Linked DNA regions of Homo sapiens: regions 1 and 3 are each linked to region 2. Evidence: fine-mapped expression QTL. A gene starts in region 2. Each other region holds a variant in brackets. All regions are shown on one strand. Distances are between the middles of the regions.

Region 1 (5,224 bases), 71 kb before region 2:
CCTGGCAATCCAGTAGCGGAGGAAGACAGATGGAGCCTCTGACTCCCAGAGCTAACACCCTGGTAGATTTCACCTTGGATCAAGGAATTCTCTTTTGCTGGTAAAAAAAATCCCAGCTAGCAGTTCCTGTTAGCTGAAAACAGACAAGAAAGAGCCGTGTAGGTCAAATCATCACACCGAGCAAGTGCTCATTATGCACTCAGCACTGTTAGCTGCTTTCCATACACTGGTTGATTTAATCCTTAAAATAACCCATGAGATACGTAATACTGTCCCCTCATTTTACAGAAGAGGAAAGAGAGGTTCAGAAACGTTAACCTGAACAAGGACACAGAGCGACCCAGGTGACTGGCAGGAAAACATCTTTTAGCGTAGAGGTTCTTAGTGGGGTCGGTGGGGGGCGCGGCGGGGTGGGATTTTGCTGCCCAGAGGACACCTGGCAATGTCTGGATATATTTTTGGTTATCACCAATGGGGAGGGTGCTATTGGCATCCGGTGGGTAGAAGTCAGGAATGCTACTAAAATCCCGTAACACACAGGACAGCTCCACAACAATCATCCAACCCAAAATGTCAAAAGTGCTGAGCATGAGAAACCTGTTTTAGAGGAATGATGTTCTGGGGGGTGGTGAAGGGGAGGGGAATGAGCTTTCCAAACCAACATGTTTAAACACGGAGGGGGCAGTATAGGGTGACGGTTAAAAGATACAGCCGCAACCCTTGGGCGTGAGTCCCTGCTCATCTGTACAATGGGGATAAGAAAGGCGCCAACCTCAGAGAGTTGCTGTGAGGATGACGTGAGACAAAGGGCTTTGAGGAACACCTGGAGCACAGTAAGTGCCAGGTAAATGTTTGCCATTCTTGGGTTCATCCCACACAATGCATGTTACAGTAAAAGGTGCAGATATGAATGATCACAATTGCTAAGATGTCTGGTGATGGCGGTTCAGGTGGGTTAACAAGATCAGGGCCCTAGATGGGCACCTTCGCCTGTCTCTTGTCCTCCCCCTAGGGTCACAGGACATCAGAAGCCACATTTCTAAGAAACACAACTGGACATGGCCCTACTCTAAGCAGGAAGGAAGAAAGTGGGAAAAGAGGCTCCATTCATGTGGCGCCTTCATTTTATCTCAGAGGAATATCTCCATCAGCATCCTCCAGCAGCCATCCCCCATATCTCATCCAGACCAATCACAAGGGGCTTGGTCTAACCACCCTTCATCTCCTTGGGCAGAGCCCATGGTCAGCCAGATAAGATCGAGCTTCTGTTGGCCTGCAAGGAGGGATGATGGCTGCTGTCTATGCCACCACCAGGGGTTGTCCTGGAGGCCTCCAATACACAAGGTCAAGCCAATCATCCCGATCTGTGATGTAACTGCAAGCAGCAGCTGTCTCTCCAAGTGCCAATTGTCATTGTGAGTGCAGCACTGCTGTGCACCAGGAGCCATGTGAGCTGCTTCACATGGCCTGGCTCCTGCTAACCTCTCCTGTTGCATCCCTTCCTACTCAACTCTCTGGTGATACCAGCATTTTACCTGGTATCCCTTAAAAGCAGCAAGCTCCTTGGCACCTTGGGGTCTGCTCACAGCTGTTCCCTCTGTCCTGAATGCTCATCCTTCCCCTTCACCCCACTTTAGGTTTCTGCATAAAAATCACAAAGTCACTGCTTCCAGGAAGCCTTCCCTGATACCATTACTGCTATCACCATCCTCCCTGACTGGATTAATTTCCACTGCACTCTGAACTTGTCAATCATGACATTTACTACCATTGGAATTAACAGCTGAGTATTTAATTGTATAATGCTTATCTCTCTCTTTAGACTCTAATCAGTAGCCATGAGCCACAGGTGACTTGAAATGTGGCTAGTTTAAATTGAGATGTGGGCCAGGTGCAGTGGCTCCAGCTTGTAATCCCAACACTTCGGGAGGCCGAGGTGGGCGGATCACTTGAGGTCAGCAGTTCGAGACCAGCCTGACCAACATGGTGAAACCCCATCTCAACTAAAAACAAAACAAAACAAAAATTAGCTGGATGTGGTGGTGTGTGCCTGTAGTCCCAGCTACTTGGGTGTCTGAGGCACGAGAATCACTTGAACCTTGGGAGGTGGACGTTGCAGTGAGCTGAGATTTCGTCACTGCACTCCAGCATGGGTGACAGAGTAAGACTCTGTCCCCAAAACAAAAACAAACACAAACAAACAAAAAACAAATTGAGATGTGTCCAAACACACACCAGATCTCAAAGACTTGATACAAAAAAAGTAAAATAATGCATTAGTAATCTTAAAAGTATGGATGATGTATTGAAATGATAATATTTTTTGACATCTTGAGTTAAATAAAATGTACTGTTTCACAGTTTTTTTTTTTGAGATGGAGTCTCGCTCTGTCGCCCAGGCTGGAGTGCAGTGGCACAATATGATACCGACTCACTGCAAGGTCCGCCTCCCAGGTTGACACCATTCTCCTGCCTCAGCCTCCTAAGTAGCTGGGACTACAGGCACCCACCACCATGCCCGGCTAATTTTTTTTGTATTTTGAGTAGAGACAGGGTTTCACCGTGTTAGCCAGGACGGTCTCGATGTCCTGACCTCGTGATCCGCCCACCTCGGCCTCCCAAAGTACTGGGATTACAGGTGTGAGCCACCGCGCCAGGCCTGCTGTTTTACATATTTTTTTTAACAAGGCTACTAGAAAATTTGCAGTTACATATGTGGCTCACACTGGTAAAGCATGTTATATTTTTCTCGGACAGTGTTGCTGGAGACCTTAACATGCTCCATGAGAACAGAGGCTGTAGCTAGATTGTTCCTGCTCTATCCCTGTGCTTAGAACAGCACCTGCCACAGAATATGTGATGAATAGTATTTTGCTGAATTAACAAATGAATGAACGGTATGCTGGGCACAGTGGCTCATCCCTGTAATCCCAGCACTTTGGGATGCGGAGGC[G/A]GCAGGATCACGTGAACCCAGGAGCTCAAGGCTATGATGCCACCACTGCACTCCAGCCTGAGTAACAGAGGGATATCCCATCCCAAAAAAGAAAAAGAAAAAAAGACTGTAAGAGGTTGCCTCGTTCATATCCTGGTTGTTAAGAACAGTTTATACTCATGCTGCATTTTAAAGTTCTCCAAAGAATCACCAGGTGCTACATTCATGGAATTTCAAGTTTTCACTTGCCAGTCCCAGCCGCCATGGGCACCAGCTTTCTCTCCAGACACTGGATTCCGTGAACACAGCCAGCTCTGCTGCCCTCTTAGCTGACTCCACACCCCAAGAGAGAAGACAGGGCTTGAGCGAAGCATCCGCGACAGCCAGGTAGCCAGAAGGTCCCACAAAAGTCAACAGACGTGGGCTCAGGAAGTTTGTCAACCTTGACCAGACAAACACATTCTAAAGGGCCACTCGTACGTGCAGGGAACAGCCCGGCGGACGGGAGCCAAGGCAAGCAAGGCTGCGCCAACCCCAGAGGAGTCAGGAGGCCAAGACTCAGAGCGTCTAGGAGGCTGAACAAGCGTGGGCCTGAACCAACCAGGTGGGGTCACCTGTCTCCAACCTACGCCCAGGCAAACAGTTCTGCACGCTGGGAAGAAGGCACGCTTAGGTCAGACTCAGGAGCTATGAGGCGTGAGGCCCAGGCCCTGGCACCTGGTGGCCACTGCGGGGCTGGGACCTTCCAGCTCTCTCAGAGGCTTCCCTCCAACCCCCCACCTTTGCCCAAGGCTGTGGATGGGTCTCTGTGCCCTGGGGTGCCTGGTGACTCTGGCGGCCTGCCTGGGCTGGAAGCTCTAACTTGGGAACACTGCTGGTGGGCAGACATGGAGAGAAGGGATTAAGGATTCGAAGAGCCAGAGAAAAACCTAACTTGACTGTTTAAAGCCCTTTTTACACTGGGCTGTAGTTGCTCAGTAGCAAGCTGGCTGTGGGTTTGAACTCCAGCCTTGGCCCTTGTATTCCTGTATGACCTTGAGCAGTGGGATCAATGGCTCATGCTTAGGGTTCACCAAGGTCGGGCTCAGTTCTAAGTACTGGACATAGAGCACCTAATTACAAGAGCCAGCGCTGGTACCACACTCCTGCGATGCAGGCAGTTAAGTGTCAGAGGCGGATTCGAACCCTGGCAGTTCCACCGTCTGTTCACAAGTTACGTGAATTTGAATCCAACTCTACAAGTTGGGCGTCTAGTGGCACAACTCACTCTCATTTATCTAGCACGTCCTAAGCTCCAGGCCCTTACTGCCCTGAATGTATTACTCACTGACCGTCCCTTACTAAATCCTCACGAGAGTACTCAGTGTATTATCCCCTAAATTCAAACCCAAGCAGCTTGGCTCCCACATGACTGCAGCAGATGCTGGGGCACACAGACTCTAGAGCCGCACTGCCCGGCTGGAGTGCCAGCTACACAGCTTGATGATCGCTGTGACCTTGGGCAAGTAACATCCTTTCTTGGTCTCAGTTTCCTCATCTGTGAAACGGGAATCCTAACAGTACTTACCAATGGGGTTGTTCTGAGGGCATTACATGAGTTTTGAAAGCATTTAGCAGAGTGTCTGGCAAACAGGAAGTGTTAAAATCAGAGTCTATTATCTGCCATGCCTGGGATACCTGCGTCACAGGACAGGTGACAAGTAGGTGGTCATCCCAGGGAGGGGTTGGAGGCAAAGCTTGAAATGTTGCCTTTCAACCTCCCAGGATCCTCCCATGTTGCAGACACGTGCATCCCTTCAACAGCCACCTGCGGACCTCTGTGTGCCAGGTGCTACTTGGTTCTCTTTGTCACACCCCAGTGACTGCCTCCAACAGCCTGCCAAGACGCCTCCCAGCCTCCACTGCCCACCTCCTCCAAATCTGTTCTCCACACTCCTGGAGTGAGATTTTTAAACATACATCTGACCTTGTCATGCCCCCCACTAAAACCTCTTTAATTGCTCCCCACTGCCCCTTGGGCTAAATTCCAAACTTTCACAGGGACTAAAAACAGTGGCTTTCGAATTCTTCAACCAAGACTCACAGTAAGAAACCTGTTTTGCAATGCAGTGCAGTGTACACCTTTATAAAACTTCAAATAAAAGTTTCAAAAAACCACACTGACCTCATGTGCAACACACTCTGGTATTTTCGATTCTATTACTTTTCTTCCTGCGATGCTGGCTGTGGCTCACCAAATTGATTTCATAACCCGCTGATGTGTTAAGATCTGCAGTCTGAGCCACAATGGCT
Region 2 (5,224 bases):
CTCTCTCCCAAGGAATTTATGTCAGGCCAGGCAGTCTTTCTTTTCATTTTGTGCCCAGGTGGGAAGCAGTTAAGTTTTTTACACTGCCCCGCACGTGACACCAATCCTTCTCCCCAAGCCTTTGCACACACACACACAGCATACACCTAAGACCTGAAGACACTGCCTAATACTTATAATTGATTCTCCCCCAAGCATCTTTGTATGAAGGAGGCCTGCCCAGCAAAGACAAAACTCTACCCCAGTCGCAACTTCCACTCCTCCGCTCTGCGATCATGTGCGTGGATACTTAGGAAAGGCATGTGTCTAAAGAAGGCACCTCCACTCCCTTCATTTTCTCCTGACAGCCACAGGCTCTCTTCTCTCTCTGCCCAGAAAGGCATCTGTCATAAGCGGCTGGGAACCTCACTTATTCACCATTACGGCCTGCGATTTTATTATACAAGGAGTTTACTGCTGGCCTAATTAGTTTCAAACTGGGCATTCCAGCTGAGGACACCTAAAAAACATCTGGTGGAAGGAGAGAGAATGAGTCCTCGCTCTGAGCTGGTTACGGTTGGATTTCTGCATAACTCTGCTCTCTTGCGCCCGATGCAAGTTGTCTTTGGAAAAGTAACTGAAAAAATAAGGAAACGGTTTCTTCTTTGTGGGAAAGGAGTCATCTTGTCACGGAGGATCCAACAACGTCTTAAAGTGGACGTGCTTGGACTGTGTATATTTTTTCACAAACGGCTGGGGTCTCCATAGCTTGCTCACCCTAATTCAAAATGTACTTAGCTACACCACAGAGCCTTTTTGCTGAGGGCTTTTCCATTCTCCCAACAGCAGCTAGCATTTTATCAATTTATCCATCTGGAACAAGGTTTGCAATCTCTTACACGCAATTTAAAGCAGAAGTAATACCACATATTTGAAACAGCGTGTCTTGGGCGTTTTTGCCAAATGGTAATCCTATAACAAGTCAACAAATCATACCTCTTTATGATGTGTTTAATGCAAAACAAAAGACATGAAAAGAAGATTCTAAAACTTACGTGATGAAAACTTTTTAAAAAAATCCTAAAGTATTGAGATACACATCTTTTTATTTTATTTTATATTTCCTTTAGTTTTTCTGATATTGGGGAAGTGATTTGTGTGTTTATAGAGTATTCTCATACACATGGTCACAACACCAGGTGAGCTATTTTAAGACAGAAAAGAAAAATGCCAATTCCTTTCAGATAAAATAGTGAATGATATTGTGAAGCTGAAGTTACAAGAGAATGGGGACATATAAACTGCTTTAAAGTAAAAAAAAGTTCAGGCTCTTTTGCATCTAACCACATTGGTCTTTTCACAATGGCAAAAGTTAAGAGTTTGCTACGAAGGCAAGGAGATTTTTTTTAATACAAACACAATTTAATGCTTAGTCAAAAGCAAGATTCAAACCACTATCATTTGTTATTTGTTATATAAATTATAGAAGAACTTACCCAAGTGTGAGAGTGTCTAAATGCAAAGATATGTAAAGGATGAAGGGGCTTAAGGTGATGAAGAAAGACAAGTGGAAAAAATGAACATTTATTTATCGAGTAAAATTGTGAAAGATTCTTTCACAAAGATTATTTTGAAAAAGAGGTTCTCTCCTCCCACTCTTTCTTTGTGTACCTCTTTTTTTTTTTGTAAGCAGGATGGTTACATGTGTATGTTAGTTGCTAACAAATGGGTCATAGTCTGGTAAGGTGCTTACTAGTTCTGTATCTATTATGGTCACAGACATTTCACTCAATCAAGAAACGGCTCATGAAATTAATAGATTCGGTTTGAAATACAATTGTCCACTGGTTATAATTTCCTTTGTAAGGGATCTCCCTAACTCAAACATAATTCAGTGCTCAAATTCTTACATGATGTTTGTAAATCATCCTCCTGCCCCTCCGCCCTCGCTAACAGCTAGATTCCAATGTTCAGCTCTTCCACTGCACCTCGTAATTAAAAGGTACCTCTTACCGGGGTGATTTATACCTCCACGTTATATTTTAAAAAGTAATTGAAGATTACATAGCATTTCGGGGAAGGGGAAAGAAAAGAAAAGGGTATCCATAAAAACGCAGCATCGGTCTTGCTTTTTAAAAAGAATTCAGACCGCGGCAGGGTGCACGCTGTCAACTCTCAGCCTCGGCTTCGGGGAAGCAGGAACCTCGCACTGCAAAAGGCGCTTCCAGTTCAACAGCTGAGAAAAGCGCACTGAGTCTTTTGCGATAGGAGTACGTTCACCAGTCACGCTTTCCTAGTATTCCTTGAGCTTATAAACTATTTATTGCTGGGGGGGAGGCAGGCAGGAATATATTGAAGGAGCCTGGGCCAGCACGGCCGTTTAACCTCCAGACTTCATGACTAAAAAACAATTCCATTTCCCACTTTCTCCCATTACAACGAAATCCTTGCCGCCTTCTAAACACCCTTCGGATGTAAACTTTTCTAAGTTTCAACTCTACCCGCAGCAGGCGCCAGGATTCCCTGCCCCGGTTCAAAGCCCCAGACCTGAACCAGAGCGGGCCGAGCGCAAACGGACTTTTGAAAAGAAATATATCAATAGCTAGAAGGCAAAGTCTCAGCGGGCCGTTCCAGCCCCAAGCCGGGATTCCAGCGGTTGGCTCTGCTTCTTGGTTATCCCATAAACACTACCTGAGGGCTTGAGTTTGCGGACTGGGGGAGCGCCCCTTATCGCGAACCGCCGGGACCATAATCGAACAAAACGCCAAGGACCCAGCCGCGTCTACACCGCCTGCGCGCCATGCACTTGTCCCGCGCGCGGGAGAGCAAACTTCAGGGTCGTTGCCCCAAAGCGCATGGGGAAACTGGGGCCCCGAGCCTGGGAGAGCCTTTCCAGAGGGGGGCTCTGCTGCTGTCCCCTCTGCCCTTGTGCCTTCCTGGCCCTGGGAGGCCCGTGCGCCCCAGAACGTCCCGACAGCTGCGGAGGCCCCGCTTGGCGAGTGCCAGAAAGAGGCGCAGGGCGAGGGGGTCCCGGTGAACAACTCCCCCCGCCCGGCGAATCCCGGCGGGCGGCCTGGGGTGGGCGCCGCTGGCGGTACTCACCGCGCGCAGTGGAGAGGGCGCCCCGACGCGGTGCGGGCGGGCGGGCGGGCCGGTGCGGGTCCGACGAGGCCGGGCTGACTGCGGCGGGCACGTTGCTGTCTCTGCCGTTGCCGCTGCCTCCGCCTCCTGGGCTGCCGCGGCTGCTGCCTGCGCCGGGAGGACCGGCCCCTTCTCCTCCCTGGGCCGGGCCCTCCCTCTGCCCCCGCCCGGGTCCCCGCGCCGCTGCGTGGGCGCGTGGGGGCGCCGAGGCGCGACGCTGGGCTACGCGGGCGCACACACCCGGCGGCTGGACGCAGGGCGCGGGGCTCTGGCCCAGCACGTGCCGCCGCGCCGCTTCCTGAGCCTGCAGCCGAGCAGAGCGCGCTCACTCTCGCCGGTCCTGGAGGCCAGGGCCCAGCCTCCTCCCCACCCACCGACACCCCGCACCTCCTCCCTCCCCGGGGCAGCACATCCTCCCTGCAACCCAGGCATGACCCCTGTGAAAGGAACGACGGCTCGGAGAGGACCTCAATAGTGACACTAACATTCGTTCACTCAACCACCCATTCATTCATTCAAAATATATTGAGCATCTACTGTGCCAGGTACCACTCCTGAGAGACTCAGCTAGAACAAGACAGACTAGTTTTCTGCCCTCCCGGAACTTGCATTCACATGGAGAGGCAAACCATAAACAAATAACCAAGTAAAGAAGCAAGACAGTTTCAGAAAGTTAGAGTTACAGGGAGAAAAATAATATATGTATCTGCTGTTGGGGAGTGGAGGAGAGGCGGTAATTTTAGCTAGAGCAGTCAGGGAAGACCTCTCTGAGGAGGTGACATCTGAATTATGAGGAAGTGCCATTGGTGTGGTATTTAGGTGAGAACGGTTCAGGGGTCTCCCCTATGTTTCACCCATTTTACAGCTAAGGAAACTGAGGTCTCAAGAGCTTAACTGGTTTAGTGAAAGTGAGAGGTATAGCCCCCTCCACCTACATGCCCAAATCAAGGCACCCCACTTACTCCATCCTCTCATAGCCACCCCCCTTTTAGTCTCCCTGGCAATGAACTGTGTTAATTGGAGTCTATGCAGCCTTTCCTAGCCCGTCACCCACTCTCTAATGTCTATGAATTCCACCGTGGGACACCCAGGATGCTTCAATCCAAAAGCAATATCAACCACTGTCATTTCTTAAGTGCAGTAAAAGACAGGGCACCCAGGTGAATTTGAATTTCAGAGAAACGAGGAATCAGTTGCAGTATATGTCTTATGCGATTGGTTGTACGTACTTATATTTAAAAAGTATTTCTTTTGTCTCCGAAATTCCAATGTAACCGGGGGTCCTATATTTTTATTTGCAACCTTAAGCTCATCCAATGCCCAACTCTTCCTTATCTCATGTAATCCCCAAGAGAGACCCCAAGGTAGCTGCTGTCAGCACACTCATTTCACAAATGAGCAGGTCCAAGCTCAAAGAAGGCAGAAAGTGGCTGAGCCAGGAATGAAATTCAGGCCTGGCTGACTCCAAAGCCGTTGCTCTTGAGCCGTAACAGTCTTCAATTCCAGTTGTAAGTTTACAGGAGCTGATGAAGGTTAAGTTCTTGGGCCCCTGACTTGCTTGGACCCCTTTCTAAGGGGACTTAGAAAAGTGTTCAGATGGTGGCTTGTTGATGTAAAGTTTACAAAAGTCCTTTGCTTTGGACATTTGGCTGCAGGCCGTAGACACCGCTGTCTTTCCACTCCGATTCCCCACCCCCAACTTGCCCTTGAGTAGGGTGGTGTCAGGTGGCTGCTGGCATTTTGGAGGAAAGTTGAGTTGGGAATTTTGTGATGTTTGTGGTAATTTTCAGCTTCTTAAAATTTGAATTTGTTGTGATTTCTTTTCTTAATTTAAAGAAATAATCATTTTCTTATCTAATCTTGGACTCATAATTTTGTACTCTTTTTCTTGAATAGGGGCTGCAAATTATACATGTATCAGGCCTCACCATTCCCAGACCCACCTCTGGTCATAGCTTACTCCGCTTTCTACTCCCCAAACTTCAGACAGAAGCAAATGTATTCAGTAAACATGGTTGTTCTCTTCTCTGGGCCTGCCGCAGTAGGCTTGGAGATGGCTCTGCTTCTGTCTTCTAGAGGCAGAATGTACATATGTACTTGGCCT
Region 3 (5,224 bases), 53 kb before region 2:
TGTAGCCTTAGATGCTCAGGGAGTAACCTGCTGGATCACACACCCTCTGTTACTTTCCTTCGCTTCATGCCTTCCTTCTTTATTCCCATTCTGGTGTTTCTTGGAGTCACCTCTTAAATGAACTATTGGCACTGGAGCCCTGATCTTGAGGTCAGCTTCTTGGGAACCCACACAAAGACACCATGCCTCTCAACACACATAAAGCTAGTGCCTGCTCGCTGGGGCCTCTGCTAAAGCTGTGCAGCAAGCCAAACTACTCCAGACTCTGCACAGTGACAGAAACAACCAACACGGCAGAGGCAATTTGAGTACGACCTCCGCCTTCTGAATTTCAAGGAAGCGCATGTGCCTGCTTAATGTTCCATTACTCCTAGAAACCTAGCTGCAAGGGAGTTTGGGCTTTCCTGCCCCTTGGTGGAGGAGCACCCAGAAGGAGGAGCAGGGAACAGATGCTGCAGAGTGACTCCTCATGATTTCCCCACAGCTCCAGCACCCCAAACCATGTGCAATCTTGGAAACTCAGTGCCCAGCCATGAGACCTCCAAACTCACAGGCATCATCAAGTCACAGACTCTTAGAATATCAGGGCTAGAAGGGTACTTGAGACTCCTTAGATTATTTTATGGTTGTGAAAATTGAGTCTCTGTCTGAGAGGGGAACATCGCTGCAAGGTCCCCCTGCAGATTAGTGGCAGCTGGGAAATAATAATTCAGTTCTCCCAGACTCTAGGAAAGTGATTATTTTTTATATCACTCAACTCCATGCTTCACTACATGTTATCCTGGGAGAAACCCTTGCCCTGTCCACCACCACCTTTAAACGAGCCTGGATTGATGGCTCTTTTGATTACTGGGAGCTTACTCTGTGCCAGGCACTGTGTTGAGCACTTTGCATGCACAGTGGAGAAAAACACAGGCTATGGAACCAGAATGCCAAGGTGCACACCCAGCTCCATAAATCACCTTGTGCAAGCACCTCAGCCTCTTTGTGTCATGCTATCCTTGTGCATCATAGATGCAAAATGATACTACCTACTTCATAGGGCAGTTGCAGGTGCAGAACTGGGGTTGGGACCCTTGCCAAAAGTCACACAGTGGGTAAGTGGCACAGCCAAGGGTTGCAACCAAAGCAATGTGCTTCCACTCTTAACCTCTGGGCTACACACAGACAGATACACACAAATCTTAAAATGCATACCAACCTAACAGCTACATAAAAGTATCAAGCTTTTAAGCCAATCTTGAGCAGTCCATCCATTCAATAAATATTTGGTGAGCACCTACTATGTGCCTTAGAGGGTGTGGCTCAGTTACCCCACCATCTAGCTCCATGTGCAGGCTGAGGTTAAACCCAAAACGTGGAGAAGAACAAAACAAGTCAAGAGTCAGAAAACAACTGAAATCCTGACTGCATCAGCAACCCTGATCCAGCTATACCTGAACTGAGCTCTGACCCTGGACTCTCAGTTCCTTGATCCCCTAAATTCTCTTTACTTGCTGAACCAGTTTGACTTGAGTTCTCTATTACTTTTACCTGAAAGTCTTGACTGTGAGACTAGGTTTGGCCTGACTTACTCTCACACTTAGCAGGACAGCTGTTAAAGTGTTAAACCCTCCCCACTCCCCAATCTCACTGTTAACTTCAGATTTTCCCATAAAAGGAACCGGCTCATGTATGTTTTGTATCATCTTATGAAGCACAATATAGTGTCTTTCTAAGAGGACTTAAAACATGGCCTCAACTGCCAATAGCATTTAAAGACCTTGCACTTGAGTAGGTCTTGGTATGTGGTGGCATGTCCCAGAGACACCATAGCCAAATGATCAAACACCCCATATTCTGGAGTCAGAGACTCTGCTCCAATCCCATCTCTACCAGTCTTGAGCTCCAAGACACTGGGCATATTCCTCTGAGCTGCAGTTTCCTCATCTGTACAATGCGAGTAACATTAGCACCCACCTCCTGCAATTTTTGAGAAAATTAAATGAGATAGTGCATGTATTTTCCCTGACACAATAAATAATAAATATATATGAAGAAAACAGATATACAATGACCTGGGTTTCCACAAGTATAGATTTCAACACTACATTTATGGAGCGATCATCTCAAGCTTGAATGAAGAACAGTGCTCTTAGAGAAGTGAACATAATACTTGTGTCTCTAAGTTTGGAACTGACAGTTACCTTGAAAGTAGGGTCAACCTTTTACGAATTAAACAATAATGTGTGCAGCTTTATTTTATTTTGTTTTTTTCCAGGCAACCTTACGAGAGAAACACAATAACGTATGCATCTTGAACAGAGTATTTATCACCAGAAAAACAGTTGGAGAGGATTTTCAGTGGCTTCTTTCAACAATGTTTACTCAGCACTAACCCTGTACTGGGCACCGAGGATACAGCTGATAAGAAATATTAGTCCCTCATCTTATGCAGCTTATCGTCACTTGGGGTTTTCAAACTATAGAGTCTCACCCATAGATGGGTTAATAAAATCAGTTTAGTGAGCTGTGACCAGTGTTTTTCAAAAAAGAAATAGAGTAGACCAGGGTTGGCAACCCACAGCCTATGAGCCAAACCCAGCCCACCGCCTGCTTTTATAAATAA[T/A]GTTTTACTGGAACACAGATAAGCCCATTTGTTTACATGTTGTCTCTGACTGTTTTTACGTGACAACTGCTGCACTGAATAGTTGTGACAGAGATGGTATGGCCCGCAAAGCCAAAAATAGTTAGCATTTGGCCCTTTCCAGAAAAAGTTTGCCAACTCCTGGGATAGACTAATATGGTAGTAATTTTTTTCTTTTGTTTTCTTTTTTCTTTTTCTTTTTTTTTTTTTTGAGACAAGGTCTCACTCTGCTGCCCAGGCTGGAGTGCAGATCATAGCTCACCATGGCCTTGACCTCCTGGGCTCAAGCGATCCTCCCACATCAGCCTCCTGAGTGGCTGGGACTACAGGCATGCACCACCATGCAAGGCTAGTTTTAAAACTTTTTGTAGACATGAGGTCTCACTATGTTGCCTAAGCTGGTCTGGAACTCCTAGCTTTAAGAGATCCTCCCACCTTGGCCTCTAAAAGTGCTGGGATTATAGGCAGGAGACACCATGCCCAGCCATATGGTAGTTATCTTAATGCTGTTGACCAAATATCTCAGATTCACCTTCTGGGTCCACAGTAGGGCTGCACTTCTTCACTCTATTGAAAGTTATGGTCATGTGAGCTGCTTTGACCAAAGAAATATTCAAAGAAATGGTGAGTACCACTCTTGTCAGACACTTGGAGATCAGTGTGTGATGTTCTGCTCCTTCAGGATCCCCAGTGATCCAGGGCAAACGTGGAGCAGGAGCAATAAATAAATGTCTGTTGATTTAAGGCACTCAGATTTGGGGTTACTTGTTACCACAGCATCATCAAGCTGATCCTGACTGGTGTTCATAGAAAATACGAGAGCTTATCACATATAGTAAGGCAAGCATTGTTTCTTAAAACTTTCATTTCTGTATGTGTTTTGTGTGGTTTGTGTGTGTGGTGGGGACATCTGTGTGTATGCAGTTTATTGTATGTCATTACAGGGGTGACATATAAAATATGTCCTTTATGAGGATCACAGTCCAAAGTTGTTTAAAAACAGTGGTCTGGAACTTTGGAAAAAAAAAAAAACTTAGATTCCAGAGAATAACATCTAAAATATTTGAAAGACTAGACAAGAGAACCTGGGAGAAAAGTTCTAAGATGAGTTTGGGAGGGTTAGTAATGCTCTTCATGTACATGCAAAAAAAAGTCTGCTTCTCAGCCAGCCATTCCTCAACTCTTTAGAGTAGAGGTCAGCAAGCTTTTCTGTGAAGAGCTAGATGGGAAATATTTTAGGCTTTGGGGGCCAAGAGGTCTCTGACGCCACTTCTCAGCTCTGCTGTTGTAGTGGGAAAGCAGCCATAGATAACACAGAATGAATGGGTGTGGCTGCTTTCCAATAAAACTTTATTTACAAAACAGGCAACTGGCCAGGTTTGAGCTGTTGGCCTCAGTTTGCCAACTCACGCTCTAGGGGATCAAACAAAGAAGTAGAAACAGGCCAAAACTGCAGTAAGAAGAACTGACTCTTTAGATCTATGGAAGAACTAAAAGGGAGTTCGTAGAACAAAGCCCCATCATCTACGTTGGGTGGGTGGGGAGGGGGCAGTCAGTAAACTATGGCCCATGGGCCAAATTCTGGCTGCTGTCTGGTTTTGTATATAAAGTTTTATTCAGTTATATACTGTCTATGGCGGCTTTTATGTGATAAGAGCAGAGTTGAGTAGTTACAGCAGAGGCCCCCAAAGCCAAAAATATTTATGACATGGTCCTTTACAGAAAATGTTTGCTGACCGCTGGCCTATATGGCCTTACTCATACCCAGGCTCATGTTCAAATGATGGTAATCAGGGGCTTAGGGTGGACCCAGGGTCATGTCCAGAAAAGTTCTTAGAACAAAGGGAGCCCCTCGCACAATGATATTTTTAATAAAGTAAATAGGGCAACAGCCAAAAAAAGAATCAAAGTAACCCTTGGCCCTGCACCCTGGGGAGATTTTGACCGCAGTGATGCTCAAGAAATGAGTTCACAGCTAAAACGTGCTCCATAAATGTTAAAATAACAAGAACAATAAATGGCAATAAAACACAAAGCCATGTACCTCGTCTCCACGGGCAAGACCTCCTAGGGCTTTGAGCTTAGAAGTAGGGAGGGAAGCAGCCCTCCCGCTGATGGCCAGTCTTGGCAGAGGGTCCAGCAATCCTGCAGGGATCCAATGGGTGAGGTCCAGAGGAGGAAGAAGTTCAAATATAAACAGGCACTGGAGGAGGACAACCAAGGCCACTGAGACTCTAACCCCCACTGGGAAAGGGACCCAGATCCTGAGGTCAGTACTTATTCTCAAGACCCTCGAAGAGTGCTTAGGGTTTCAGACCCTCTTGGGTTGCGAGTGTGCTCTCATCCCAGGCACACCGGATCCCACATACCAAACTGCAAGCCAGCGTGAGACAGCTCAGTGTCTTCTGCACCGTGAGACCTTGCCAGGCCCACTGTCAACAGCTGATGGCTTGATTTGATTGTCCCAGTACCTCCACCTTCTGCAGCAAAGAGCCGCAGAAGGTCTGAAAAGCTTACCCAAGCACAAAATCATCATATCAAGAGCTTGTTACAAAAGCTGACTAGGCAGATAGGAGCAATGATGCATTCCCTTCCTGT

Which allele goes with the higher level. Alleles are on the strand shown, and positions count from the first base shown. SD is a standard deviation of normalised expression in the study named.
As copies of A replace G in region 1, the expression in sun-exposed skin of the gene that starts at base 3,226 in region 2 goes down (small effect, 0.23 SD a copy in GTEx).
In carriers of allele T in region 3, the expression in lung of the gene that starts at base 3,226 in region 2 tends to be higher than with A alone (small effect, 0.39 SD a copy in GTEx).

What was found. PIP is the estimated chance that this variant, and not a neighbour inherited with it, causes the effect.
Region 1: its variant is the best candidate, but not a certain one, in a credible set for the expression of EYA2 in sun-exposed skin (GTEx, PIP 0.58).
Region 3: its variant is the best candidate, but not a certain one, in a credible set for the expression of EYA2 in lung (GTEx, PIP 0.87).

What each region holds. Positions count from the first base shown.
Region 1 is chr20:46,963,963-46,969,186 of GRCh38, reverse strand. The region is part of intron 1 of EYA2 (EYA transcriptional coactivator and phosphatase 2); the gene reads right to left. Among named protein-coding and RNA genes, the nearest start is that of EYA2-AS1, 65 kb to the right of the region's middle. The variant G/A (reference allele first, on the strand shown) is at 2,954.
Region 2 is chr20:46,892,845-46,898,068 of GRCh38, reverse strand. It overlaps EYA2 (EYA transcriptional coactivator and phosphatase 2), which reads right to left and starts at 3,226. Exons shown (of 16, transcript NM_005244.5): 1 at 3,082-3,226.
Region 3 is chr20:46,945,723-46,950,946 of GRCh38, reverse strand. The region is part of intron 1 of EYA2 (EYA transcriptional coactivator and phosphatase 2); the gene reads right to left. Among named protein-coding and RNA genes, the nearest start is that of EYA2-AS1, 47 kb to the right of the region's middle. RefSeq lists an enhancer at 5,062-5,224. The variant T/A (reference allele first, on the strand shown) is at 2,609.